7 linked regions of the Homo sapiens genome follow. The protein of the gene in region 1 interacts with the protein of each later gene in a biochemical or structural test. Each region holds a gene or a part of one and is shown in the gene's direction. Other genes may lie near its edges.

Region 1 (3,500 bases):
GATGAGCGAATGGATGAATGGAGTGAATGGATGGATGGATGGATGATGGGTGGATGGATGGATAAGTGGATGGATGGATGGATGAGTGAATGGTCAGATGGGTGGATGAGTGGATGGATGGATGGATGGATGGATGGTTTGGATGGATGGATGGTTTCGGTGAATGGACGAGTGGATGGATGGGTGGATGGATGGATGGATGGGTGAATGGATGGATGGGTGGATGGCTGGATGGCTTGGGTGAATGGATGGATGGGTGGATGGATGGATGGATGGATAGATGGATGAATGAATGGATATATGAATGAGTGAATGGATAGATGGATGAGTGGATTGATAGATGGGTGAGTGAGTGGATGGATGGATAGGTGGATGGGTGAATGGATGGATGGGTGAATGGATGGATGAGTGGATTGATGGATGGATGAGTGAATGGATAGCTGGATGGATGAGTGGACTGATGGATGGATGAGTGGATGGATAGATGGCTTGGATGAATGGATGAGTGAATAGTTGGATGGGTGGATTGATGGATGGATGGATGAATGAATGGATATATGGATAAGTGAATGGATGGATGGATGAGTGGATTGATGGATGGGTGGGTGAGTGAACTCATGGATGGATGAGTGAATGAATGGATATATGGATGAGTGGATAGGTGGATGAGTGAATGGATGGATGAATGAGTGAGTGAGTGAATGGACAGATGGATGGATGGCTGATGCGTGAATGGTTGGTGGATGGATGAGTGGATTGATGGATGGATGAGTGAGTGGATGGGTGAATGGATGAGTAAATGGAGGGATGGGCGGAAGGATGGGTAGATATGTGGATGGATGGATGGATGGATGAGTGGATGGATGGATGCACCCACAGGTGGGTGAAGGAGGAATGAACGAATGAGTGGATGGACAAATGGATGGATGAATGCACACATGGGAGAGTGAAGGAGTGGAGGGATAAACATTGGCTTCCCATGTGTAAGCTTCATCCAAAACCATCTGGACACTGGGCCCAGGAAGAGGCTGTCTCAGCTCCTCGGCTGAATTATTTCCTTAAATTACTGCAGAGCCTCCAGTGAGCAGCACACCTACTTCTGGATGACAATGGCTTTAGAGGCGCCGCCTGCCAAGGAGTGGCAGACTTAACCTGCAAAGTGGGATCATTGACAAGCAATTGCAGCATCGGCTCAGAGCACTTTGGCAGATCTGGGCTCAGCATGGTGAGCACCATCTGCCCCACACAGAGCTCTCTCAGGAGTGGGTCATGTGCCCAGAGAGAAACCACGCTCACCTGGCCTAAAACATGCTCCACTGTCAGCTGAAATCTTAGCTATGCCTTAGCTATATGCCTTCTGGAATAAGACAGACAAACCCAGCCCCATCCTGATGTTGCCAGACCTCGGAAGATGCAGACACACCCTGGGCAGGCCCTGACTTGGTGCTGGAACTGCCCAACCTGGCACCCTCCTGGGACACAGAATAGAACTCGGGTCACAGGCAGCCAATACCCTTAGCATACCAACCACTTTTAGGAGCTTGAATGGTCTCATCCGTCTTATCGAGGTAGCCCAAAATGCTGGACTTTGCAGCAGCCAGCGCTCTGGGCAATGGAGGAGCTCTCTCCAGTTTAATATTCATTCAATAAACATTCAGTGCCCATCACGCCCTGTAGGCAGTGGGGATCCCACTTCAAATGAGACCCAAATATCCCATGGGGCAGCACTCCTGGGCACCAAGGACCAAAGACAGTCAGGAAGCCATCCCTGGGGCAGAGGGGGCAGCCAGCCCTGTGGGTTAGGGGGAAGCATGTCCAGGGAAGGGATAGCCAGAGCGAAGTGCCCGAGGCAAAAAGTGTGGATGAGGGTTAGGGGGAGAGTGTGTGTGTGTGTGAGGGGCAGGGGGAGTGTGTGTGTGTGAGGGGGCAGGGGGAGTGTGTGTGTGTGAGGGGCAGGGGGAGTGTGTGTGTGTGAGGGGCAGGGGGAGTGTGTGTGTGTGTGTGAGGGGCAGGGGGAGTGTGTGTGTGTGAGGGGCAGGGGGAGAGTGTGTGTGTGTGAGGGGCAGGGGGAGAGTGTGTGTGTGTGAGGGGCAGGGGGAGTGTGTGTGTGTGAGGGGCAGGGGGAGTGTGTGTGTGTGTGAGGGGCAGGGGGAGTGTGTGTGTGTGAGGGGCAGGGGGAGTGTGTGTGTGTGTGAGGGGCAGGGGGAGTGTGTGGGTGTGTGAGTGGCAGGGGTTGTGCATGGGTTTGTGAGTGGCAGGCGGTAATGTGTGGGTGTTTCAGGAGCAGCGGGATGTGTGTGTGTGTCTGAGGAGCAGGGGACCCTGTGGAGGATAAGCAGGAGCAGCAGGTGGTCCTTGCACTCTGGCCGTGTGATGACCATGTTCAGCTCTGGGTTGCTCCCTCACATTGGCGAGTGCCCTTACAAGCCTGAGCTCTGGGCTCCCTGTTCTATCCGACTGCCAGCCTTCCCTTGGGGCTGGCTGTGTGTCAAGTCCATTTCCAAAGTGTCGTGTCGTCAGTCTAGGAAGAATTGAGATGGAGCCTGGGGCCGTGTCCAGGTGGAGTCAGGAGAGCAGCCAGGGTGCCCAAGGGGTTCCCGTGTGTGCACCGTCCACAGGGGCCTGAAAGGAAGGAGGGAGGGGCGGGCAGAGCAGGAGGGGCTGTGGGAATTCCACAAATGGGGAGCGGCACATCCTGGGAATGGGCCTGGCCGTTTGTGCTGCTGTGCTGGGGGTGGTTAGGGCTGTGACAGAGACTCCAGGCTGATGGCATGGACTCTGGGGTGGGAGACCGAGAAATCTCCCCATGGACTCTGGGGTGAGGAGTGGGGGGCCGAGAAATCTCCCCATGTCTCCCCATGGAAGGCTCTGCCTTAGGGAAAGACCAGGTGACCTGTGCCAAGCTCCTGGTCCCTGGAGGGCGGCCTTTGAGTGCATCCCCGAGGGCTTTGTGCTGGACCATCCCAGCCGGGACCCCCTATCTGGCTCTGGGAGCCAGCCCTGGGGAGGGACAGAGCCAGGGTCCCCTTCTGGACTGTGCAGGGCTAGGGCAGAGGGAAGGAGCGGGAGCCAGGGACGCACTGGCAGCTTCCTCCTTTCTGGTGGATCGGGGAACCTGCAGGCTCACCGCCTGCTGAGCTGTCATGCCAAAGTCCAAGGGTTTGAGTTCTTTGTTGGGAAAGGGTTTCTTTAAGCCTGAATGGGAAAGTTGAAAATGCCTGTTTTTAAGAGCTTTGGGGGTGACACAAAGTGTGGAAGAACAGCAGCTACTGCGGGCTCCGTCCTCAGATTCAGCCCCAGATGTTTGGTGCAGAGGACACGGGGCTGACCAGACGGTGAAGGCAGATTCCCCTTAGAACCCGGCCCTCATGGGGCCCTCAGCGGGCCGTACCACTCCTTCCCCACCTACTGGATGTGGGAGCCACTGGGCAGGACTGCCTGAGGGGCCACAGTGAGCAAAGCCCCCGACAGGCAAGACCCGATGGGCCTCGGGGGGCAGG
Region 2 (3,500 bases), on another chromosome or scaffold:
CCATCAAAGTTTCGTGTGTGTGTGTGTGTGTGTGTGTGTGTGTTTTTTTTTGCATATGGATATCCAATTGTTATAGCACCTTTTGTTGAGAAGAGTATCCTTCCTCCACTGAATTGCCTTTGTACTTTTGTTAAAAATCTGTTGTCTATATATATATATATATATATATATATATATATATATATATATAGATCTATTCCTGTACTCTCTATTCTGATCTGTTGGTCTACTTGTCTGTCGTTATGTCAACATCACACTCTTGATTACTGGAGCTTTATAATAATTCTTGAAATCAGGAAGTATTTGTTCTCCAACTTTGTTCTTTTTCAAAGTTGGTTTGGCTATTATAGGTCCTTTGCATTTTCATGTGAATTTTAGAATCACCATGATAATTTCTACCAAAACCTGCTGTGATTTGGATTAGGATTGTGTTGAAACTATAGATCAATTTGGGGACAATTGACATCCTAACAATATTGAGCCTTCCAATCCCTGAACACAGTATTTCTACATTTAATTATACCTTCTATAATTTTCCTCAGCAGTATTTTGTAGTTTTCAGTATATAGGTCTTTCATATGTTTTGTCAGATTTGTCCCTAATTATTTCATATTTTTTGATGCTATTGTAAATGATTTTGATTTTAATTCCAATTTTCAATTATTTCTTGCTAGCATATACAAATAGAGTTGGGGTTGGGCATGTTGGCTCACGTCTGTAATTGCAGCACTTTGGGAGACTGAAGCAGGAAGATCACTTGAGCTCAGGAGTTCAAGACCAGCCTGGGCAACATAGTGAGACCCCCATCTCTATACAAAAAGATTTATTTTTAAAAGAATAGAAATACAATTGATTTTTGTGTATTGATCTTATATCCTGAAACCTTGGTAAACTCACTACATTTGGCCCTTCATATCTACAGGTTCCATATTTGTGGATTTTGAAAATATTCAAAAACAATAAAAAATAACAGTGCAATAATAAAAAATACAAAATTTAAAAATATAATATAATAACTATTTGCATAGCATTTTTATTTTAGTTTAGTTTGAGACAGAGTCTCGCTCTGTCACCCAGGCTAGAGTGCAGTGCCATGATCTCGGCTCACTGCAACCTCCACCTCCCAGGTTCAAACAATTCTCCTGCCTCAGCTTCCCAAGTAGCTGGGACTATAGACATGCACCACCACGCCCAGCTAATTTTTGTATTTCTTAATAGAGACAGGGTTTCACCATGTTGGCCAGGCTGGTCTCAAACTCCTGACCTCAAGTGATTCACCTGCCTCAACCTCCCAAAGTGCTGTGACTTTAGGCATGAGCCACAGCATCTGGCCTACATAGCACTATAGCAATTTTTTTTTTTTTTTGAGATGGAGTTTCGCTCTCGGCTCATTGGAACCTCCACCTCCTGAGTTCAAGTGATTCTCCTGCCTCAGCCTCTCAAGTAGCTGGGATTACAGGCGCCCGCCACCATGCCCAGCTAATTTTTGTATTTTTAGTAGAGACGGGGTTTCACCATGTTGTCCAGGCTGGTCTTGAACTCCTGATCTCAGGTAATCCACCAGTCTCCGCCTCCCAAAGTGCTGTGATTACAGGCATGAGCCATTGCACCTGGCCTTATATAGCATTTTAATTGTATTAGGCATTATAAGTAATCTAGAGGTGATAGAGGTATACAGGAGGATTTGCATAGGTTACATGCAAATACCACAGCATTTTATATAAAGGACTTAAGCATCCACAAATTTCAGTATCCATGGGGGTCCTGGAAGAAATCCTCCATGGATACCAAGGGAAAACTGTAGTTGTAGTAGTTTTTTGTAATAGAATCCACTGAATTTTCTACATAGATGATCATTGATGATGTATTCCTTTTCCACTCTCTCCTATATTATAGTGATATCACTGTGGCTTCCTAGTCCCTTAGTCCATACTGGTTCCACTTTAACAAAATGGGAAACTGGTCTAACCAAGGCTGACTCATTGATAGCTGGGGCTGTGACCCTCAGGGTTTGGGGGTTGTCATACCCTTGGCCAGTAGTTCCTGGAGACCTCCTCTAGGATAGCATAGGGAAGATTGACTCATCAACATTTTTGTCCTTCAGACACCAAGAAGAAGAATGCCTCCCCCATCCCTGCAATTCAGCTCTCACCCTGGGCTTCTGGGCCAGGGCCCTGTGGAGAGTCCCTCCCAGTATCTTTCTCCCCTTGTTTCCATCTGAGCTAGTAAAGGAGCCTTGTATGGCTTGGGGGTGAGTATAACCCCCATGAAAAAAAGTAGGAAAGTCTCTTATAAAAGGAGGAAAGAAAGGGAGTGGTGCCATGTCTCACTTTTGCAGTGAACTGGACTGTCTGCTTGTACCTTGCCATTGTGTGCCCCTGTCACTGAGAAGGCTATCTAGTATCTGCTGAATAAAGTGAACAGTGTCTATGAGACCTGAGCCTCCTCTGTTGTCTCTTCTCCAAGGGGAGCTCCTTCCTCTGTCCCTTGATCTAGCATGCCTTACTGATACTATGAGTATTGTCTGGGATGTAAGGGAGTAGATCAGGGGGTGGGGAAGGAATGTCTCCTTCAGCTGATAGGTTTGGACTGCCCTCTCTCACAGAGTCGGAATGATGTTATTCGAGAACGCTTTGGAATGGATCCCAAGCCAGAGATGCTTTTGGGCCTTGCTGCGCTCCACATCTATATCACTGTCTCAGCCACTCGACCTAGTCAGAAGATCTCGCTCAAGAATGTGGAGTGAGTTGTGCTGCGGCCCGTTGGGATGGGGGGCGAATAGTTGCGTAGGGAAAAGGTACACTGGTTGAGCTATGCTATGCTTTTCAGAAATGTAGGACATGGGATGGGAGTGAGAATTGGAGTCCCTCATATCTAGACTATGAAGCCCTAGAGCTACAGCTTCTACTAGGGAGCTGTGGCTAATGTTATTTTCCTATCCCTGTCCCTTTTTCTTTCTCCCAGTCTCTATTCCTCCATCTCTACCTCTCAGATTCAGTCAATTTCTGTCTTACCATCTTCTCTCTGTCCCACTTTGCCTCTCTCACTAATCTCTTACTTTTCTTCTGCTTTTAGGAAGGAGTGGGGCCTGGAACCCTTTCTTCCCCCCTCCCTCCTGCAGGTCATCAAAGAGAAGAACCTCCGGAAATCTCTCTCTCAGCAACTGAAGGCTCACCAAACACATCCTTCCTGCGGCACCAAGGTATCCAGAGTAGACCACTGGGCATGGTGCTCCAGGCACTACTGGCCACAGGGAGATCCTGGGTGGTTTCCCAGCAGAGTCTGGTCCTCTAGGGATCCTCACCACTGCTTTTGACTCAGGTGCACATACGGCTTGGCCAGGTGTGGGGCAGTTGTGGAGAGGAGTCTTCCCCAAGCCTGAGCATCCCAAAGAGACAGCTGAGTGACACATCACTGAGAGAGCTCAGGGTCCTCAAAGCAAAGGGGCCAAGATGCAGGAGATAATTCTCAGGTCCTTTTCACCAATTAGTCAGTGCCGA
Region 3 (3,500 bases), on another chromosome or scaffold:
TTGGCCAGGCTGGTGTTGAACTCCTGACCTTGTGATCCGCCCGCCTTGGCCTCCTAAAGTGCTAGGATTACAAGCGTGAGCCACCACGCCTGGCCAAAGAATACTATTTCTTGACATGTGAAAATGATATGCTAGGCTGGATATGGTGGCTCACACGTGTAATCCCAGCTCTTTGGGAGGCTGAGGCAGGAGGATCGCTTGAGCCGGGAGTTGGAGACCAGCCTGGGCAACGTAGCAAGACCCCATCTCTACAAAAAATGTTTAAAGTTAGCCAGGTGTGGCGGTGCATGCCTGTAGTCCCAGCTACTCAGGAGGTTGAGGCGGGAGAAGTTCTTGAGCCCAGGAGGTCGAGACTGCGGTGAGCTGAGATCACCCCACGCCACTGCACTACAGCCTAGGCAACAGAGCGAGACTCTGTCTCAAAAATAAAAAAATGCAATTCAAATTTCAGTGTGCATAAGCTGGGCGCGGTGGCTCACGCCTATAATCCCAGCACTTTGGGAGGCCAAGGTGGGCAGATCACTAGGTCAGGAGTTCGAGACCAGCCTGGCCAACATTGGTGAAACCCCGTCTCTACTAAACATACAAAAATTAGCCGGGCATGGTAGTGCACGCCTGTAATCCCAGCTACTCAGGAGGCTGAGGCAGGAGAATCACATGAACCCGGGAGGCGGAGGTTGCGGTGAGCTGAGATCACGCCATTGCACTCCAGCCTGGGCAATAGAGTGAGACTCTGTCTCTAAAAAAAGAAAAACAAATTTCAGTGTACATAAATAAAGTTTTATTGGTACACATCATGCTTGGTTATTCATGTGTTGTCCATGGCTGCTCTGATGTTCGAATGGCAGAGGTGAGTAGCTGCAGCAGATACCTTGTGACCTACAAGGCTGAAAATATTTACTCTTTGGCCCTTTACAGAAAATGTTTGCCAAGCCCTGCCCTAAAAGCATGGGAAGAACAATTTCTGGCCCTCTGGAATGTTCTAGACTTTTTTTTTCAGTGGTGCAATCTCAGCTCACTTCAACCTCTGCCGCCCGGATTCAAGTGATTCTCCTGCTTCAGCCTCCTGAGTAGCTGAGATTACAAGCGTCCGCCACCGTGCCCAGCTAATTTTTATATTTTTAGTAGAGACGGCGTTTCACCGTCTTGGTCAGGCTGGTCTCAAACTCCTGACCTTGTGATCCACCCGCCTCGGCCTCCCAAAATGCTGGGATTACAGGTGTGAGCCACCGCGGCCAGCCTCTGTTCTACACTTCGCTAAGGATATAGGTCAGATAGTAAGTTCTGGCCGGGAAGGGTGGCTCACATCTGTAATCCCAACACTTTGAAAGGCTGATGTGGGAGGATCGCTTGAGCCCAGGAGTTCGAGACCAGCCTGGGCCACACAGCAAAACCCTGTCTCCACAAAAATAAAATCCCCCCCCAAAATTAGCCAGGCACGTGGCATGGGTCTATAATCCCAGCTACTTGGGAGGCTGAGGTGGGAGGATCACTTGAGGCTGCAGTGAGCTAAGATTGTGCCACTGCACTCCAGCCTGGGTGACAGTGAGACCATGTCTCAAAAAAAAGAAAAAAAAAAACAGTTCTGTGGTTGCAGAGAGAAAAACTGGTTTGAACCTATAGCTCTAAGAAGGTTCTAGAATCGAGCAGAGCTGTGACACCTAGGGAGTTCCAGGGCTTGGCATTTTGTCTGTTTCTAGGGTAAAGGAATCTGGGCTGATGAGAATGCTCAGAATTGGTGAACAGAGGCATCTGGTTCTACTCAGACTGGAGAATTCTAGAACCATGGAGGGAATAGTTATCTAGTGTTCTATAACCCTGGGCAGAGCTGTCCAATTATAGTGTAATCAGAAAGTTCTAGATGGAACTACAATAGAAATACAACGTGAGCCATATGTGATTTAAAATTTTGTAGTTATCCACGTTAAAAAATTAAAAACAGGTGAAATAACTTTTTTTTTTTTTAAACTGAGACGGAGTCTCGCTCTGTCGCCCAGGCTGCAGTGCAGTGGCACGATCTCAGCTCACCGCAACCTCCGCCTCCCAGCTTCAAGCGATTCTCTCGCCTCAGCCTCCTGAGTAACTGGAACTATAGGCATACGCCACCATACCTGGCTAAGAAATTAACTTTAATAACATTTTAATTAAGCTAACATATTTAAAATATTATTTCAACATACAATCAATATTTTTAATTTACTTTTTTATTTTTTTGAGACACAGTCTCACCTTGTTGCCCAGGCTGGAGTGCAATGGCGCAATCTTGGCTCACTGCAACCTCTGCCTCCTGGGTTCAAGTGATTCTCCTTCCTTAGCCTCCCGAGTAGCTGGGATTACAGGCGCCTGCCACCATGCCCAGCTAATTTTGGTATTTTTAGTAGAGACGGGGTTTCACCATGTTGGCCAGGCTGGTCTCAAACTCCTGACCTCAGGTGATCCGCCCGCCTCTGCCTCCCAAAGTGCTGGGATTACAGGCGTGAACCACCATGCCTGACCTTAAATTACTTTTTTTCATACCAAATCTTCAATATCTAGTGTGTATTTTCTATTTACATCTCTATTCAGTCGAGCCACATTTCAAGTCTGTGATAGATACATGTGCCTGGTGGCTACCACAGTGAATGACGTATCTCTCTAGAACCCCAGAGTGGAGCTCTTGTTCCAGAATGCTTAGATCCTGAAGGATAGTGGGCAGAACCGACTGTGGTGTAGGGTGAATTTCACTTAGTGGTGTCCAGAACGGGGCCCTACACCCGTGGTTCTAAACCAAAGAGCCGTAGTTACTGGTTAGAATGTTCTAGGGCCACTGGCAGAGCTGTCTGGCTCTGGGTAGCTCAGGGAATTCTAGAACCATGAGAGTAAAGCTTTTTTTTTTTTTTCCTTTTTGTTTTTGGAGATGGAATCTTGCTCTGTCACCCAGGCTGGTGTGCAGTGGTGCGATCTCTCTCGGCTCACTGCAACCTCCACCTCCTGGGTTCAAGTGATTCTCCCGCCTCAGCTTTCAAGTAGCTGGGATTATAGGCACGCGCCACCACGCCCAGCTAATTTTGTATTTTTAGTAGAGACGGGGTTTCGCCATGTTGGCCAGGCAGGTCTCGAACTCCTGACCTCAGGTGATCCACCCCCCCCCCCCGGCCTCCTAAAGTGCTGGGGTTACAGACGTGAGCCACCGCACCCAGCCAGGAGTAAAGCTTTATGTAGTTCTGGGCTGGGTTGGGAGTATTCTGGAACTGTCTAGAATTCTCCTGGAACAGAATTGTTTGTTCCTTGACTGGTCAGGTAATTCTTAGAATCCCTGGTGTAGCCAAAGGTGTGAACTACTGAAGGAGATTCTAGAACCACAGGAAGAGCTGCCTGACGCGATTGTGATTAAGATGTTCTGGAATCACGGAGCAGAGAAGTCTGATTCTAGAGTGATAATAAGATTCTAAAACTCCTGACAGAATTGCTATGAGACCTGTCAGAGAGTTCTGGAATCAAGGGTCAGAACCAGCTGGGGT
Region 4 (3,500 bases), on another chromosome or scaffold:
GAGGCCATCTCTGTGGGTTGGCCAAATCACCCCTGTGTTTCTGACCCCTTCCCTTGCCTCTTCTTGCATGGCTACTACATATTGAAAACCATGGACTCTGCTGCCAATCAGCCTGTGGGTCACCAACTTCTCCCTCATGGGGAATCTTGTCTACCCTGCTCCAGTCCCACCCGTGGCTTTGTCTCTGACTCCTGACCAGATCCCACCCTCGCCCTTTCTGCTGGGAAAAACAAAGGGCTCAGAATCAAAAATCCTTTGGTAGAAAATGGATTAGGACTTTGACTCCTTCTGCCTATTTGAGGAATTGGGTTCCTGGAGTCCAAGAAAGAGGTATAGAGTGAAGACTCACGAGGTGCTCCAAAGTGGGGCAACTGTCCTTTTTCCCATGAGCTCTGCTGGGGTACGGGGATGAGTGACCAAAACATCAGTGGCCTTAAGAGCTTACTGTAATCAAAAGAACACCTGGATATCCTATTGCTCTGTCACTAATTCCCAGTGTGCCCTTAGGCACATCCCATGTCTTCTCTGGGCCTCCGTGTCACCTACTGTCACATAAAGGGGATAGGACAAGATGATGTCTGCTGTCCTTCCAGTTCGGACACAGTGGGAGTCTATGATCCCCCAGTCAGGGAGAACTGTGGTTCAGAAGGGGAAGGGTTATCTGTCTAGGCCACTGGGTATCCCCTATGGACACTGGGTGTGGCATGGTTTGCCTGCCATGCTCCATCTCTGCCATCCCCCTTAGGCCAGGCCTGCACCCCTCCTAGTGAACCCTGAGACACTGAAGCACAGCCTCTCGGTGAGTGCACCACTGGCTGGCTCAGTCTCAGACAATTGATCTGGGCTAAATGAGCAGCTTGGTTTGGGCTGATATGGTTGGAAGCAAAGCAGGGATTGGTGGGGTGAGTGAGGAGCGGCCTCTTCCAGGTCAGCCTGTCCTCATCTGTGGCCAAGAGGTGACCTGGGGTGCACTTGGGCTCTTCTACTCTGTGGGAGTAGGGGAGGAGGCAGGTTGACTAAGGGGCAGATGGCTGGAAGGGCAGGGGGCACTAAGGGAACTGCCTGTGTCTCCCCCTAGGTGAATGGCAGTGATGGCATGTTCAAATATGAGGAAATCGTACTTGAGAGGGTGAGTCTGCCAGTGGGGAAAAGCGGAAAGGGAAGGAGAGGGTTGGAGCCAGGATAAGGGAGACCCCTGAATCATGGTTTCAAGACCCATGGGGGGACCTGCATTTAGAGGATGGTGAAACAGCGGCCCTCAGAGGCTGCTTCACTGCATCAATCAATCAACCCACTAACAAATATTAATTGACCTTGCTCACTGAGGCCTGGGGAATTGGGGAGGGGATGGGTTTCCCAAAATGATCAGCAGAGGCTGGGTGTCTGACAAATGTGCCCAGCCTGCCATGGCCCCTTCTGAGGCCTGGAGAACTAGCTCTGGGATATAAGGGGAGATGAGGTACCCAGAACTCTCCTTTGTGCCCTCAGAGTGAACAGACTGTGCCTTTCCACCCACTTCTGCAGGGCAACTCTGGCCTGGGCTTCAGTATCGCAGGTGGCATCGACAATCCCCATGTCCCTGATGACCCTGGCATCTTTATTACCAAGATTATCCCTGGTGGAGCAGCTGCCATGGATGGGAGGCTGGGGTGAGATGGCCTGGAAGCAGGGTTGTGGGTGGCAGGGACAGGATCGAGATGAGGGGAGGAAAGCCTGCCTGGCAGGATGACCCTTCCATTAGATCTGAGGGCGGGGTGGGAGGGCAGAGGAGGGGAGGACAGAGAAGTGGGAGGAAGCAGGAGAGGGGGTGGAGGGGTAGGGGCACAGTGTCATGCCTCTCGGGCTTCCCCCACAGGGTGAATGACTGTGTGCTGCGGGTGAATGAGGTGGACGTGTCGGAGGTGGTACACAGCCGGGCGGTGGAGGCGCTGAAGGAGGCAGGCCCTGTGGTGCGATTGGTGGTGCGGAGGCGACAGCCTCCACCCGAGACCATCATGGAGGTCAACCTGCTCAAAGGGCCCAAAGGTGCGGCCCTCCAGGTTCCTGTGCTCCAGCCAGAGCCTTAGGCCCCAGATCCCATCTTGCCCCATAGGGAATTGGAAGGGAATGGCCTTACTCCTTGCCTGACTCCCCCTGTTCCAACTCACAGCCTACTTTTTTGACCTCAGGCCTCACCCTTACTCATCTCAGGATGGCAGCTTAGCGTTTGGATCCCCCGGGGGGAGCTCCTGTGGGGCCAGTGGGTTGGCTGGGGGAGGGGGTTTGGATTTGGGATCGACAACACTTTAACCTCTCCTTGTGGCCCTCTCCCACCTCCTGCTGGCTCCCGCTCAGGCCTGGGTTTCAGCATTGCTGGGGGTATTGGCAACCAGCACATCCCAGGAGACAACAGCATCTACATCACCAAGATCATTGAGGGGGGTGCTGCTCAGAAGGATGGACGCCTACAGATTGGGGACCGGCTGCTGGCGGTGAGACAGACTTCATGGGGATGCCCAAATGGTAGGGTAGGGAGGAGGAGCTCCAGTACCCCTTACTCCGCCTAAACCTCACTCAGGGATGAGGCATCATGGGGGAATTTCAAGAGTTATCATCTGTGTTGTGTTTGCCCAGATACAAAGGCCCTAATTCTTTCTGTGGCCAGGGTCTTGCCCTATCCCCTACCTCCTGCCTCTGCTCCTCACAGCACTATACTTGGGCCTTTGTTAGCATGCTGTTGAATTTCACTGAAAAGGCATCCCTCGAGTTCCCTGGAGAAGCCTCTCCTTCTTCCAAGTCCCAGCCTGAGGCCTCTCCTCTTCTAGGTGAACAACACCAATCTGCAGGATGTGAGGCACGAGGAAGCTGTGGCCTCACTGAAGAACACATCTGATATGGTGTATTTGAAGGTGGCCAAGCCAGGCAGCCTCCACCTCAACGACATGTACGCTCCCCCTGACTACGCCAGCAGTACGTACTCATCAGCCCCTGTCCCTGGTCTAAAGCTCTGTCCCCTGGTTTCTGGAGGGGAAGAAGTTCATACCCTTTGTTAAGAGAGGGCAAGCAGCTTTGCTCAGTGGTGGCACTGTAGCAGCCAATAAGGTTTATCTGAGGCGCCATTATTGCTAATTGAAAACTTTGCTCAGTACCCCATCGTGAAGACTTGCCATAGAGTCAGCATTGGCAATTTTTGACAATTTCTATGGAGAGTGAATTTTAAAAAGAGGAGAGAGAGAAGCCGCAGAGGATAGTGCACAGAACTGAGTCCAGATCCCAGTTCTGTCTTTGTTTTTTTGTTTGTTTGTTTGAGACGGAGTCTTGCTCTGTCGCCAGGCTGGAGTGCAGTGGCACGATGTCAGCTCACTGCGAACTCCACCTCCTGGGTTCAAGCAATTCTCCTGCCTCAGCCTCCCGAGTAGCTGGGATTACAGGTGCCTGCCACCATGCCTGGCTAATTTTTTGTATTTTTAGTAGAGACGGGGTTTCTCCATGTTGGCAAGGATGGTCTCGATCTCCTGACC
Region 5 (2,921 bases), on another chromosome or scaffold:
TGTTTCATGCAGCATAGTGTCCCCGAGGTCTGTCCGTGTTGTAGCACACTTCAGACTCTCCCTCCTCTCCAGGGCTGAGTACTGTTTCCCTGCAGGCCTAGAGCACATTCTGTTTCTCCGCTAGTCCGTGCTGTCACCCTCGGCTGTTGTGAACACTGCTGCTGTGAACACGGGTGTGCACGGCGCCTGTTTTCCATTCTGTCCAGTCTCGTGGTCACAGGCGCTCCCAGGCCCTCCTGTCCATCTGTTTGGCGTCACTTTTAGGCTGGAATGGAAGCCCCCACCGCTGCACTCCAGCCTGGGTGACAGAATGAGACCCTGTCTCCAACAAAACCAGAACCAGTATATTTGGCACAAAATGCCCTTACGTCACTTGGCGGGGGGGGGATGTAGGAATAAAGTGACTCTTCCCTGTCGATGTAGACCATTTGGGCATCCGGCAAACAGAGCCTTCCCTTGACAGAACAGATGCCCCACCTTTCTGGTGGCCAGGGGACAGGCTGCCTCTCCTTTCCCGCCCGCCCATCAGCTAAGTGCCTGTCTTCCAGGATGGTAACCAGGCTGTGCCGTAGGAGGCCAGGTGGCAGTGGCCTTGGGCTGTGTCACCAGTCTCTAGCCTGACCACAAAGGGAGCGGCCCTGGGGGAGGTGCAGCTGGGGGACAGGTTCCACCGTGGGAGTCAGAAAACTTGGTGGTTCCCCACACACCATGGCATTAACTCTCTTGTTTTAAAGAAACATACTGCATATCATAAGGATCTCTGTCTGTGAGTCAGCGAATTGCACGTGCACGTATTCATCATGTGGCGCTTTTCCCTCTGCATGTCCCATCTTTGGGGACGTGGTGGAGCGCCTGTCGGGTGTGGCGGGAACACGTGTGCTGACCTGGCCATGTCTGCTTAGATCTGCAGCCTCATGAGAGGGGGCATTGCTGAGCGAGGGGGCGTCCGTGTGGGCCACCGCATCATCGAGATCAACGGGCAGAGCGTGGTGGCCACAGCCCACGAGAAGATAGTCCAAGCTCTGTCCAACTCGGTCGGAGAGGTAAGGAGGGACTTTGAGTGTGCCTCTGCATGCCGGTTCCCACGTGCTCCCGCCTGCCCTCCATGAGCCTCCCCCGCTCCAGAGGACACAGGGCATCTGAAGGTCAGCCAGGCTGTGTCTCCCATCGGGGCTGCTGTGACAAGGGTGAATGGAGCGGCAGGTGATGCGGAGCCATCCCGGTCTGGCTCTAACTGAGCAACCGGGAGGGCACAGGCTGCTGGGGGTGCTCCCTGGACACTACTTTTGGGACTGGACCTGTATGTCCAGTTCAGAAGCTCTGCAGGGCACACAGCTCTGGCCACCCTGGCAGGCTTGCCTCTCTGCCCTTGCTGGCCATCCCCTCCCACAGCCAGGCTGCTTGCCCTGTCCCACTTCACTGGCTGAACCCCCCACAGTCCAGTTCTTTCTGGCATCGCTTCCACGGCAGTGTGAGGATGGTGTGGGGGAGGTGCAGGTTTTCCTCCAGAGCTCACAAGGAGGCAGGATCATTGGGAGGGGGGATGGTGCTGGGGAGGTGGCACATACACCGGGGGAGGCCTGGCCAGTGCGCAGCGGGTGTGCGTGTGTGTGTGTGTGTAGTGTGAGCGAGTGTGGGTGTGTGCATGTGGATGTGTGAGAGCATGGGTGTGTGTGGGATGTGATGTATGAGTGTGGGTAAGTGTGGGTAGGTGTGGGAAATGAGTGTGTGCGTGCACGTGGGTGTATAGGGGTGCATGAGTGGATGGGTGTGGGTGTGTGGCTGTGTGAATGTACCTGAGTGTGCGTGTGGAGGAGTGTGTGTGTGTGGGTGAGTGTATGCGGATGTACGTGTGTGTGTGAGAGCATGGGGTGTGTAGGAGTGCGAGTGTGGGTGTGTGCAGGGGTGTGTGGCTGTGGGTGTGTGTGAGCATGGGGTGTCAAGCATGAGTGTGTATGTGTGCACGGCTGTGGCTGTGGGTCTGTGAGTGGGTGTGAGGCATGGGGTGTGAGGAGAGTGTGAGTGGGTGTGTCTGTGTGTGTGTAGGGGTGTGTGAAGGGGTGTTCAGCACAAAGGGGCTGCAGGCTCTCTGGGAAGCGTGGTGGCCGCACGAGGCGGGAGGCTGAGAGCTGAGGAGCCCGGCCTACAGAGGGGCCCGCTGGGGACCGGGCAGGGAATTTGGGTCTGGGGACAGCAGCAGCAGGCCGGGCCGTCTGTGGTGCTCCCCCTGGTGGCTCTGTGAGGCTGAGTGCGTGGCGACCATCCTTGCAGCCTGTGGGTGGGCGGGTGGGTGGAGGGGTCTCTAGTTCCTGTTCTTCGGATGAGGTCTCCAGGAGCCACATCGGGACACTGGTATTTTGTGCACTGCAGGGTCGGCTGGGAGCTGGGAGGCCTGTTTTCCCTGGACTGGTGGGGGCAGGGGTCTGGCTCAGGAGGAGGAGGGGCCAGGCGGACACCAGCCTCCCTTTGATGGCTTCAAAGAAAGGAAAAGCCAGTGTTCCCAAGTAGATGCTTTGAAGCGGCCGCCCCCACGGCCAGCAGCCCCACACCTGTGAGGAAATCCACCCGTGGAGGAGCGGGCGGGAGAACGGGGAAGAGGCAGGAGGCGGCCGGGGCGTTGGAATCCTTTCAGCCCTGCCGAGGTTATGGTGCCTGTTTCCAGCAGCTCTGAGCCCACGCGGAACATGAGTCGCTGATAAACAAGGCTTGCAGTTGCGAGGGGCCTCGGGGTGGGTTTCTGGTTGAGGAACGCCGGGGAATGGCTGATGGAGGAAGCCCCTGCCGGGAGCAGGAGCAGCGGAAACCTACATCGGCCACACAGATCCCGGCGGGGGAGGGAGGGCAACGCTCAGAAGCAGAGCTGCGCGATGTGCCTTTCTGGGCTGCTCAGCCCAGGGCCCGAGACCTGCTTGCCTGAGGAG
Region 6 (3,500 bases), on another chromosome or scaffold:
AAACCATGTTCTGAGACACCTCAGATTCCTCGTGTAACCGGAGAATCGATAACAAATCAAATATTTACTGAGTGCCTGTGATGTCTGTGGCACTGGGCAGGACCAAGTTTTACCTCTTATAAATTTTAACAGGTGTTAGAGCCAGGAGAGAGTTTTGAGATAATGTATAGTCTCCTTGTTTTACCTATGAAGAAACTGAGGCTCAGGGAAAAAAAACGGAGTTGTCCAGGGTCACTCAACTAGTGGTAGAGCCAGAACCAAGGTAAGACTTCTGCAGTGTTCTTTCCAGTATTCCAGGCTGCTTAAGACGTACAGGGTCTGGCACATGGTAAGCCCTTAATAAGTATTTGTGGAAATGAGTTATATATAGTTTGTGCCTCTGAGAAACTTACTGTCTAGTTAAGGTAATTAAGGCAAAAAACAAAACTGCCATGCTGATCAGTAGTGGGATTGCGCCTGTGAAAAGCCACCGCACTCCAGCCTGGGCTACATAGCAAGATCCCCATCTCTTAAAAAAAAGAAAAAAATTGATAAGACAAGCTGTTATAAGGCTTGCGTATGATAACATTATAGAATTTCAAAGATGAGGGAGAATTCTCTTCAAACATTTATTCCACAAATATATATTGAGTTCCTGCTATGTGCTAAACTCTTTTGGCCCCTAGGGATACAGCAAGGAACAAGATAGACCAAATCCCTTCCCTCATGTAGTGTATGTTCTGGTGGGGAGAGATAGACAGCAAGTAAATGTATGAACATCATATTCAGGGATAAATCCATTGAAGAGAAGTGAAGTAGGGTAAGGGGATAGAAGAAGTGAGTTGTCAGGGAATGTGTTTGGCATGTTTAAAGAATAGCAGGGTATCCAGGGTGGCCATCAGTTTTGGTTAGGGAATACTTCTTGAAGTGGGTAAGACTTGAGAAATCTTAAATAGGCTTAAAGAAGGTGGGGAAGATGATATCTTAGTAGGGAAGAAACTTTGGGAGTAGGAGACAAAAGTAGGCAAGTTTCAGGTCTTCATAAAGGGTAGCAAATACGTGTGGTAGAGGCAAGGATTGGGAGGTGGAAGATTCATAGGAAGTGGAAGGTACAGCTGAGAATGTGGGTGCAACCGGACTAGAGGGTTTAATGCCAGGCTGAGGATTTTGGAAGTTTCTAGTCTACAGTAGGCACCGTAGGTTTAGAGAAAGGAAGACTCATGATGTGGGCACAGGGCCACCAATCTGGAGGTGGGTATAGTGGGCCCTGAGATGAGGTCTTAGTGGTAGCAATGAAGAAGGCACCAACCAATAAAAGATGCCTCCTGACATAGGCAGGCCAGGGTGACTTGGATGGTCCTGGATATGTGATGGAGCAGGGTAGGGTCCAAAATGACCACAAGATTTCAAAACTAAATAAAAATCCGTCATGATCAAGGGGCTGTATTAGGCTTTCCACATTCATGGTGGATTTTCTGCATCTTCTGGAGGCTGAGCTGATTCCCAGAACAGGGCTGCCTTCTTGTTAGTGTAACCTTGAGCGGGTCTGATAGGGCCCACCATCACACACATCTCATTTCAATGAGAGGACCTGAAACTGTAGCAGTCTCTTACAAGTCTACCTTCTTTCTCATCCTTTATCTATTTTTATATAGTAGAAAGAATTAGACTATTTTACCTATTAATTTACATTGAATAGTAACTAGAACATGAAACCAATGCCTGGTTTCATTAAAGTGTTCCTTGAACATTCTTTCTGGGATTCTTTTTTATCATGTCTTTCTGCCTGTAATTTGTTTTGTCCAGGAAAGAAAGTCTAAAATGTAGTTAAAGACAGGCTTTGAGCCAGGTGCAGTGGCTCACGCCTGTAATCCCAGCACTTTGGGAGGCTGAGGTGGGTGGATCACAAGGTCAGGAGTTCAAACCAGTCTGGCCAAGATGGTGAAACCCCATCTCTACTAAAATACAAAAATTAGCCGGGCATGGGGGCAGGTGCCTGTAATCCCAGCTACTCGGGAGGCTGAGGCAGAGAATTGCTTGAACCTGGGAGGCAGAGGTTGCAGTGAGCCGAGGTTGCACCACCGCACTCCAGCCTGGGTGACAGAGCGAGACTCCGTCTCAGAAAAAAAAAAAAAGACAGGCTTTGGAGACTAGACCTGTGGTCTAATCCCAGCTCAAACATTTATTAGCTGAGTATTTCAGTTTCCTCTTCCGTAAAATGAGAACAATAATAGTTCTTTAAGACTAGTCCTGATCTCATGGGATCTTTGTATTCAGTTAGCTCATACTTGCGTAGTGCTTAGGACATTGTCTGGCATAAAGTAGTTTTTTTCCTCTATCATTGACAACTGGCAGAGAACTGCTGTATGAGAATATATCAATTGGTTAACCAGTTCTCTGATAAAGATATTTTTATAGGCCCTCCATAGATAAGAAAATGCCTACTCATTCACAGTTGAGTGAACTTCTGGTTGGAAGTTGCAGTCTGGGTGGCCTGAAAGACATAAGAACCATCTGTCTCATTTGTCACTGCAGTGTATTTTGTTAATGTACTGAGTTTGCCTTGCCTGTAGCACCTGGTTTGTCCCTCTCTGACATGTTATTTCTGTGTATATCCATGTCCTTCACACCCCATGAGTACACACCAAGGGCCCCAGTAATTCCTGGCCTACTCTGTGCCTTGTACATGGGCACATAGAAAAAAGTTTGCTGAGTTTGTTTTGAAAACCTTCCCTTCAGATTTTAGAAGTTTCTGTATTCAGCTTAACCTTTTCCCCAGCCAACTTCCTAGATACACACGCAGGAAGGAAGAGAAGTTAGTCACAAATCGGTCCAACTAAGTGCCTGGCACCATGGGAGATATTTTCACATCTATTACATTATTTCTATTAATCCACTTGGTAATCCTGTAAAGCAGGTGGTATTATCCTCTTTTTAAAGATTAGGAGACAAGCTCAGAGAGGTCAAATAATTTGCCCAAGGACACAGAGGCAAACAGTGACAGATTCAGGTTTCAAACACACATACATTTACCCCTCACAAATTTTTCCAAATAAACCAAAGAAGGGAAGAAGAGAATAACAGCAAGAAGGAAACTTTCTGAGATACCTGTGTCTGTGCCTTAACCTGAAAAAGGAGAGGCCCTTGGTTTGGTGTCAGTCTCTCAGAGCTGGAAGAAATCACTTGATCCCTCCTTTTACAAAAGAACAATCCAAGGTTTAGAGAAGCTCGAAAGCTCTTTTAAAAATCATCTAATCTTTTTTTTTCCTGAGACACTCCTTTTGGTAAAATTTGGTAAGCTAGTGAGGAAGAAAACCCTTTGGGTTACAGGGAGAGTATCTAGAGGCATGTTAATCCTTACTGTTAGTCTTTTTGATAGTCACTTCATTAAAATGTGATCTTTTTCTCTTGGCTTTTCCCCAGCAGCTGCTGCCCTGCCCTTCTGCTTTCTGCTTTGTCCCAGAACAAGTGGGATTTATACACCTGACCCGCCAGTTCCCAAGGGGCCCAGGGGTTACCAT
Region 7 (2,625 bases), on another chromosome or scaffold:
CAGGGTGGGTGCGGTGTGGTGGCTGAGCAGCCACTGACACGCTGTCCCCACAGGTCCTCTGCCGTCACCCGTCACCAATGGAACCAGCCCTGCCCAGGTAAGAGGGTGGGGTGCCCATGAGACACAGGGTGCCTCTGGGGGTACCCAGGCCCGACAGAGGCCCCCTTCTCCCTGGAGATCCGTCCTCGAGGTGTGCTAGTGACACCCGATTTTAGCCCTGTCACCTCCCTTTAATGCCCCTGTGGGTCTCATCCTGGGTCGTGCCACACACAAGCCACGTGGGGCCCCTGGGGTCGGGGCCACTGCCTTCTGTCCTCTCCTGGGCACCACCTGGTAAGGAGTTGCCCTCCAGTCTCTGCCTCCTCAGGGAGCTGGCGGTGGCCTCACCCCAGGCGTTGCTCACGCCGGCCATTCCTGCACCTGAACCCCCTCTGCACCATGAGCCGGCCAGGCCACCTGCCTGTCACTGCCAGGCGCCCGGTGCCTGCCCCGCCGCATCTGGAGTCCACCAGAGGCCCGAGGCCCCCTGCCGAGTGGAGGAGCACACACTGGGGGGGGGTGTGCCTCTGTGCACATGTGTGCGTGTGCAGGTGTTGTGTGTGTCTGTGAAACCACAATCTGCCCTTGGTTTCCCAGCTCAATGGTGGCTCTGCGTGCTCGTCCCGAAGTGACCTGCCTGGTTCCGACAAGGACACTGAGGTATGGATGTTCTCCACTCCTGAGCTCACACGTGGGGTTGCTAGAGGCCTTGGGGTAGGCGTCTGTGGAGATGTCAGCCCGGGCAGTGGGGTCTCTGTTCAGGAAGTCCTCGTGAGCCCCAGCCCCAGCAGGCAGCCTCTGTTGGTTGCTCCCTAGGAGGGGCCACCGTCTGGGGTGTGGGACTAGGGCTCACTCCAGACACCCCACCCACCGTGCTCACCCCAGGATGGCAGTGCCTGGAAGCAAGATCCCTTCCAGGAGAGCGGCCTCCACCTGAGCCCCACGGCGGCCGAGGCCAAGGAGAAGGCTCGAGCCATGCGAGTCAACAAGCGCGCGCCACAGATGGACTGGAACAGGAAGCGTGAAATCTTCAGCAACTTCTGAGCCCCTTCCTGCCTGTCTCGGGACCCTGGGACCCCTCCCGCACGGACCTTGGGCCTCAGCCTGCCCCGAGCTCCCCCAGCCTCAGTGGACTGGAGGGTGGTCCTGCCATTGCCCAGAAATCAGCCCCAGCCCCGGTGAGCCCCCATCCTGCCCCTGCCCACCAGGTACTGGGGGCCTGTGGCAGCAAGATAGGGGGAGAGAGACCCAGAGATGTGAGAGAGAGTCAGAGACAGAGACAGAGAGAGAGAGAGAGAGACACAGAGAGAGACAGAGAGAGAGCGAGCGAGCGCGCGGCAGCCGCGGGGCGAGGGCCTTTGCTGCTCTGCCGGGGCCTGCTGACTGAAAGGAATTTGTGTTTTTGCTTTTTTTCCAAAAAGATCTCCAGCTCCACACATGTTTCCACTTAATACCAGAGACCCCCCCCCTTCCCCTCCCCCTTCCCCTCCCCCTTGGGACGCGCTCTAAATAATTGCAATAAAACAAACCTTTCTCTGCAAACCATTTCCTCCCCGCCCCCTCCCCTCAGCAGCGGCCGTCCTGAGTGGGAGTCCCTGGGACTTCCCAGTGGCCAAGTTGGGGCGCCCAGCCTCTTCGTGGGGACCTTGGGTAAGGCCAGGGAGGCCTGATGTGGCCGTAGGAGCTGCCCCTGCCCACCTGCCCTGGTGTGGGGGTCCCTAGGCCACACCCTGCTCCCCACCCAGCTACCCTGTGCGCCTGTGCCCTGCTGGGGGCCTGGGCTCTCCGAGGGGCCTGAGGATGGAGGCCCCACGTCCCCGAGGAGGGCGGCCTCTGGACAGGCCCCTCATTCCGCGCGGCAGCTCCCAGGCCTGGGGAACGTAGGTGTGTGAGAGCGGCACCCGGGAAGGACGCCTGGCCTCTGGCTCAGCCCTGCTTGGCGGGCTCCCCCGTGGACACCCTGTTGACTTTGCACTTCCCTCCCGGGCCCCGCACCCCCGAACCGACCACCGATCGACCGGCACCGCTGTTGCCTCGTAAGCCATAGCGCATGCGCGCTCTCAGGATAAACAGGCCCTGCCTGGGACCCACACGCCTCTGTCTTTTCTGAGCCTCCTCCCCGTGGGGTGAGAGGGGTGGAGGGATGAGGCTGTTTCAGGGAGCCCCCTCCCCGAGTCTCAGCAGCTGGAAACGGTCTCGTTCCTGAGCCCGTGCCCTGCATCCATCTGCTCCCAGCCCTGCTCCATCTCCCCCGCTGACCCCCATGGGACCCCCTGCTGTGTGGCACATCCTGGGCCCATGCCCATCTCTCTTATTTGGCAGACTCAGCCTCCCACCTTCACCTTCCCTGTGAAGCCATCCGGCCCCACACAACACCCACACGGGCCACCCTTTGCCCAATTCACCCTGCGACCTCTAGCAGTCACAGGTCAAGCTTTGTACCCTGTGGCGCCCTGCCTGGGTCCCCAGTGTCCCTTTCAAGGCCGGGTAGCTCTGTAAACAGGGGTGGGACCCTGGCAGAGGCTGGGCTTTGAGGGCATGAAAGTTCAGGAGCTGGCGGTGTCCGGGCTGGGAAGCTGGGGGGCC

What was found.
Region 2: the proteins of SLC9A3 (region 1) and FRMPD3 interact in a test that uses a peptide from one of them, tested with the Homo sapiens proteins (one large-scale study listed by IntAct).
Region 3: the proteins of SLC9A3 (region 1) and APBA3 interact in a test that uses a peptide from one of them, tested with the Homo sapiens proteins (one large-scale study listed by IntAct).
Region 4: the proteins of SLC9A3 (region 1) and DLG3 interact in a test that uses a peptide from one of them, tested with the Homo sapiens proteins (one large-scale study listed by IntAct).
Region 5: the proteins of SLC9A3 (region 1) and APBA2 interact in a test that uses a peptide from one of them, tested with the Homo sapiens proteins (one large-scale study listed by IntAct).
Region 6: the proteins of SLC9A3 (region 1) and LIMK2 interact in a test that uses a peptide from one of them, tested with the Homo sapiens proteins (one large-scale study listed by IntAct).
Region 7: the proteins of SLC9A3 (region 1) and NHERF2 form a complex in vitro, tested with the Homo sapiens proteins (2 studies listed by BioGRID and IntAct, with this or other methods).

Annotation. Positions count from the first base shown.
Region 1 is NC_000005.10:514,450-517,949, reverse strand, and holds part of SLC9A3 (sodium/hydrogen exchanger 3 isoform 1 precursor), read left to right. Parts: intron 1-3,500. UniProt on the Homo sapiens protein: Plasma membrane Na(+)/H(+) antiporter. Exchanges intracellular H(+) ions for extracellular Na(+) in 1:1 stoichiometry, playing a key role in salt and fluid absorption and pH homeostasis.
Region 2 is NC_000023.11:107,557,652-107,561,151, forward strand, and holds part of FRMPD3 (FERM and PDZ domain-containing protein 3), read left to right. Parts: intron 1-2,605; coding exon 2,606-2,742; intron 2,743-3,075; coding exon 3,076-3,202; intron 3,203-3,500.
Region 3 is NC_000019.10:3,755,193-3,758,692, reverse strand, and holds part of APBA3 (amyloid-beta A4 precursor protein-binding family A member 3), read left to right. Parts: intron 1-3,500. UniProt on the Homo sapiens protein: May modulate processing of the amyloid-beta precursor protein (APP) and hence formation of APP-beta. May enhance the activity of HIF1A in macrophages by inhibiting the activity of HIF1AN.
Region 4 is NC_000023.11:70,447,835-70,451,334, forward strand, and holds part of DLG3 (disks large homolog 3), read left to right. Parts: intron 1-1,078; coding exon 1,079-1,129; intron 1,130-1,524; coding exon 1,525-1,649; intron 1,650-1,855; coding exon 1,856-2,025; intron 2,026-2,334; coding exon 2,335-2,471; intron 2,472-2,804; coding exon 2,805-2,949; intron 2,950-3,500. UniProt on the Homo sapiens protein: Required for learning most likely through its role in synaptic plasticity following NMDA receptor signaling.
Region 5 is NC_000015.10:29,112,974-29,115,894, forward strand, and holds part of APBA2 (amyloid-beta A4 precursor protein-binding family A member 2), read left to right. Parts: intron 1-902; coding exon 903-1,043; intron 1,044-2,921. UniProt on the Homo sapiens protein: Putative function in synaptic vesicle exocytosis by binding to STXBP1, an essential component of the synaptic vesicle exocytotic machinery. May modulate processing of the amyloid-beta precursor protein (APP) and hence formation of APP-beta.
Region 6 is NC_000022.11:31,215,298-31,218,797, forward strand, and holds part of LIMK2 (LIM domain kinase 2), read left to right. Parts: intron 1-3,500. UniProt on the Homo sapiens protein: Serine/threonine-protein kinase that plays an essential role in the regulation of actin filament dynamics. Acts downstream of several Rho family GTPase signal transduction pathways.
Region 7 is NC_000016.10:2,036,902-2,039,526, forward strand, and holds the end of NHERF2 (Na(+)/H(+) exchange regulatory cofactor NHE-RF2), read left to right. Parts: intron 1-53; coding exon 54-97; intron 98-636; coding exon 637-699; intron 700-855; coding exon of another isoform or gene 856-885; exon of another isoform or gene 886-924; coding exon 925-1,083; 3' UTR 1,084-2,125; downstream 2,126-2,625.